Linked DNA regions of Homo sapiens: region 1 is linked to region 2. Evidence: fine-mapped expression QTL. Tissue or cell type: blood mononuclear cells. Region 2 holds a variant in brackets; the other region holds the start of a gene. All regions are shown on one strand. Distances are between the middles of the regions.

Evidence for each region. PIP is the estimated chance that this variant, and not a neighbour inherited with it, causes the effect.
Region 1: it holds the start of RTP5, and the variant in region 2 is fine-mapped to the expression of RTP5 in blood mononuclear cells (TOPMed, PIP 0.97). The same link has a PIP of 0.9 or more in whole blood.

The regions. Positions count from the first base shown.
Region 1 is chr2:241,868,391-241,871,017 of GRCh38, reverse strand. It overlaps RTP5 (receptor transporter protein 5 (putative)), which reads right to left and starts at 1,289. Exons shown (of 2, transcript NM_173821.3): 1 at 1,104-1,289. The coding sequence starts at 1,261.
Region 2 is chr2:241,761,566-241,764,184 of GRCh38, reverse strand. All of the region lies in intron 9 of D2HGDH (D-2-hydroxyglutarate dehydrogenase), which reads right to left. Among named protein-coding and RNA genes, the nearest start is that of GAL3ST2, 14 kb to the left of the region's middle. The variant C/T (reference allele first, on the strand shown) is at 1,257.

The DNA.
Region 1 (2,627 bases), 110 kb before region 2:
ACAAGCAGCTGTGAGCTTCAGGGAACCCTGCATGAGTGAGAGGCTATGATTCAGTTCCAGGCAGTGGAAGTTTCTGGATGACAGAATGTTCTATAGCCACACTGCCCTGCCTGCAGCCTCCAACCACACTGGCCACAGAGCCCGTGGACACGTTCGTGCTGGAGGAACTGAACTGCTGACTTTATTTAAATGGGACTGAGGAGCCAAAGCCACGGGCGCTGGGGCTGCATGTTGGGGCAGCCGTCCTCAGTTCTCTCCCGCCAGCTGGGAGCCGCTCAGAGCCATCTCCACCTGGCTGTGGGAACAGTGATGTGCTTCCCAGCACTTCTCAGACCCCAACACGGGTTATTACTTTCCCAGCTTCTGAAAAAGCTGGGATTCTGCACACACCTGGCCCCAGGGGTCTCAGGCACTGAGGAGCTGTGTCAAAGGGCAGGACGACTCCCCCTTTGCCCAGGGTGTCTCCACAGAGGGACGGACCAGCCAGCAGCCTGGGGGCCTGTCAGGCCGGGCATCTGCGAGGATGTGGAGCTGCCCCGCGCCCCTCCCAGCTGGCACCCGGCCGAGCTGTGGATGCCTTGCCAGTTGGAGAAGCGCATGGCGCCCGCCCTGCTGCGCTGACGGCACCACAACCGTGATGACGGCCTGTGAGGCTCACTTGTGACCCACAGCCACCCCGGGCCCCCGATCAGGGCCGAGCACCCCGCTGTGTGCAACACAGGGCCGGATGGTGACCACAGGCTCCGGCACGCCCCAGGGCCCACCTGTCAGCACTGATGGCTGCGAGACCACGGCAGTGCCATGGAAGCAGGAGATGAGCCTGTGTCCAAGGGCAGCGCTGGCCCAAGGAGCCGAGTGAGGGAAACCAAACTCTCCATGAGGCACCCGCCATGTCTTCCCCGGGACCCCTGCGTCAGCAGCCGTGTGCCCAGCATGGCGAGGCAGGGGCTCCGGCGGGAGAAGGAGCACCCAGCCCCACCCTCCCGTCTCGGGGACAAGACGAGGCCCAACAGCCCCACCCAGCCTCTGGGACCACCCAAGGTCCCGTGGAAAAGCACCTTCAGCCCCCTGCCTCTCCCAGGGTCCCCAACCTCTGGCCGCACCTCGAGAGCCCCACCAGCAGGTACTGGACACCACCGCCGTCCAGGCATCCCGGGACCAGGCTGTGCTCAGGTAGCAGAACCCAGACGTCCTGGGGCTTCCTCTCGGCCATGGCCAGGGTGAAGGTGCTGGCCCACATGTCTGCCCCAGCCCGGTCCATGCTGCCGCCTGGCTCCGCAGTGTGGGCTGAGGGCTGCGCCCGCCGGGGGCCCAAGGAAACGTCCCCGCATCCCGCGCCGGCCAATCAGCCACCTTGACAACAGCATGGTCTCCATGGCAACCAGATTTGTCTCCGAGAAATGGGAAGCAGAAAGGAAAAATACAATACAATGCAATCTCCCATGACCCCGCCCCCCAGAGAGCATCCCTGTGGCAGCACCGTGGTGGTGGTGGTGGGCGTGGGCCCGTGGACACGCAGGGGCCTCCCCAGACCCGTGCGTGTAGAGGCCCGGGTGTTTTCACACATCGCACCAAGGAATCATCCACAGCCCTCTCTTTCTAGTGCACATCAGGAGCGGTGGCCCACACTCATCCCTTGCTGAACACTTGGTATTTTTCCAGCTTGTGGCTATCATGTAACTTATTCACTCAGCTTCTCTCTGCAAACAGCACTAATGCTTTTCACACAAACAAAGCTGAGAAGAACTTTATAGAACGTGTATCATTGCAGATTGTCCCGTGGGTGTATTCTCTTAAACTTTTTACTAGTGAGAAATATAAAATATTTACATAAAATGCCTAAAACATAAATGCAGAGCTTCACAAATTATTCTAAAGTCTTAAGTCACCACGTCCTATAGGAAGAAACAAAACCTCGCTCTGCCAGCCTCCAGAGCTGGCTGCCTGTTCCCTCCCGATCTCAGCCCGCGGCCCCACCCCCACCCCCTGCCCTCCTGGCAGAGGTGCCACCAGCCTGGCCGTGCCTGCACAGACAACGTTGAGGCTTCAACACCTATGATGCCTCCCTCACCGAGCCCTTTAGCTGTGCAGCTTCTGAGCTTTACATAAACAATTCATGCATGTGCCCAGCTTCTCACGCCTTTTCAGGTTGTTTAATTTCTGAGATTCAACAGCATTGCTGTGCGTGGCAGCCACCTGTCATGGCACAACAAGAAAGGGTGAGCTGAGAAGGAGCCGGGACGTGCAGGGGCGGAGACAGCCAGCTGATCCCTGCAAAACCTCAGCACAGATCTGCCCCCGGGAGGCTCCCGGCCACCCGGCTCTCCTCACAGCTCCCATCTCGCCATCTCTCTGCCCTGCACACTGAACAATCTCTTCTCATTTTTCTACCACTTCACACATTATCTCCTCGTCTCTGTCGACTCTGCAGCTAATGCTGGCAAGCGCCTTGTCATAGTTTTCATTTCTGAACCTTCTTTTCGGCCCTTTCAAACCTGTGACATCTTCCCGCCTTGCAGCTAGGTGTGACTGCAAGATAGAAGAGGAAGCCAGTGGGACGCACTCTGGGAAGGGGCCTCCATACAGGGCCAGACTGCCAGGGAAAGCCCCGCGTTTCTCATCCCAGC
Region 2 (2,619 bases):
TCCCACAGTCCCCACGGATGCGTGCTCAGGCCAGAGAGGGCTGAACACATCCCCTGCCCGGGGACTTGCCCAGGAAGGACTGGTTGTGAAAGAAGAAAAACCACATCCACAGAATATGTTCATTTGGTTTTGTTTTTTTGAGACAGGGTCTCCCTCTGTCACCCAGGCCGGAGGGCAGTAGAGTGATCGTGGCTCACACTTCAACCTCCTGTGCTCAGTCAGTCCTCCCACCTCTGCCTCCTGAGTAGCTGGGACTGCAGGCATGTACCACCATGCCTGGCTGATTATTTTTTTTGTAGAAACGGCGGGTGGTCGGGGGTGGGGGGCCGGTCTCACCATGTTGCCCAGGCTGGTCTTGAACTCCTGACCTCAAGCAGTCCTCCCACCTCAGCTTCCCAAAGCGCTGAGATTACAGGTGTGAGCCACGTGCCTGGCGTCCACAAAGTATGTGAATACAGTCACGCTTCATAACAACGTTTCACCCAACCCCGGACCACAGAGATGATGCTGGCCCCATAACATTAAAATGGAGCTGAAAAACTGCCATCACCTTAATGACGATGTCACCATGTTGTAGCACAATTACTTGTTAATATCAGTTTAGTGTGGCCTCAGTGTGCAGCATTTATAAAGTCTAGAGTAGAGTACGGTCATCTCCTAGGCCTTCGCAACCCCTCACGCTCACCCACTGCCTCGCCAGAGCAACCTCCAGTCCCGCGAGACCCACTCGTGATGGGCACCCCAGGCAGGTGTGGCATTTTTACCTTTTATACCATACTTTTACGGTCCCTTTTCTAGGATTAGCTTTTGTGTTCAGGCACATACTCAGCATTATGTCACAACTGCTTCCGGCATTAAGTGGATGACAGCTGTGGTTTGTCACCTAGGGGCAATGGCTACACCACACAGCCTTGGTGTGGAAGAGGCTGTCCCATCTGGGTGTGAGTGCCCTCCGTGATGCTCACACAAAACGAAACCACCTAATGACACATTTCTCAGGACGCATCCCCATCATTCAGCAACACCCAACTGTATTCCCGAGCAACGGCGGCCTGCACCCGGAACTCACGCTGCCTCGGGTCCCAAAGGCTGAGAATGTGGAGATTAAAGAGGTTCCGGGCGGGGCCCCAGGCCCTCACCCTCCCCACCCACTGCAGAAGCAAACCACCTCCCCTGCAGGCCTCAAATAATTCCTACAGATAAAAATCTAACGAATATGAGCTCATGCCAAAAATCACACACACAAGAAGACAAAC[C/T]ACCACGGCTAAGGTCAGAATCAGACCCACAAACACCTCAGACGCTGTCATTTCCAGACACAGAACACAAACGTGTCATGTGTAAAGAAATAAGAGACAAAAATATAAAACCAAAAAATCTGACCAAGCAATTTTTAAATATCCACGCCAATCTTCCGGAGATGAAATGCATCATGGCTGGCCTGTGGACCTTAGCAGACAGATCTGACGGCCGATCACACACGGCAGAGAACGCCAAGCTGGAGACACTGCAAATAGCATCCAAACCTGAGAGGCGGGACCCTGGCAGCAGCCGATAAGAAACAAGGGGGCTTGGACTGAGTTCCAAGAGGAGAACAGAGGAAGGGGAGAAACGGTGTTTGAAGAGGCTCTGGTGGCTGAGGAATTTCTAAAGCCAGCAAGACCCCAAAGCCCAAGAAGTGCCAGGCAGGTAAACACTCACCCGGCCAACAGGCAGGTAAACAAACACTCATCTGGCCGACTCCCGGCCAAACCAGAGTGAAACCGCAGAACCCCAAAGACAATGGAAGGAGCTGAAAGCAGCAAAAAGGAAAAAGCAGGCTGGGCGCGGTGGCTCACACCTGCAATCTCAGCACTTTGGGAGACTGAGGCGGGTGGATCACGAGGTCAGGAGTTCGAGACCAGCCTGGCCAATATGGTGAAACCCCATCTCTACTAAAAATGCAAAAATTAGCCGGGTGTGGTGGCACACGCCTGTAATCCCAGCTGCTCGGGAGGCTGAGGCAGGAGAATCGCCTGAACCCGGGAGGCGGACGTTGCAGTGAGCCAAGATCGCACCACTGCACTCCAGCCTGGGTGACAGAGCGGGACTCCATCTCAAAAAAAAAAAAAAAAAAAAGGAAAAGAAAAAGAAAGAAATTATTTATTTCCCTCTGTTCCCTCCATTCCCCCGAAGGGAACTGCCCTGAACTGAGGCTGTCTCCGCACCAGCAGACATCAGAAGAGAGAACAGAGACTCCCTCCTGCTGCTGGGAAGCAACTGTCAACCCAGAACCACGGAAATCCACTGAGGAAAAGACATTTTTATCAACTAAATCAGTACATTTCCAGACAAAGAAAATCTGAGCTGTTCCGTCACCTATTTTTCCATGCCAGGGAAAATTCTGGAGGCTGAGATTCAAGCAGAAGCTGTGTGCAAACTGGCTACGCAGAATCAGGATGGTGACATGGTGACAGGGTTATGTGTGACTGAACAAGGCAGAACCAGAATACACCACCGAACAGCATGCAGGTGCCCCTCAGTGTCCCTGGGGGACTGGATACAGGACCCCTCGGATATCAAAATCCTGAGATGCTCGAGTCTCTGACAGGAAATGGCATAGGATTTGCATATAAACTACAC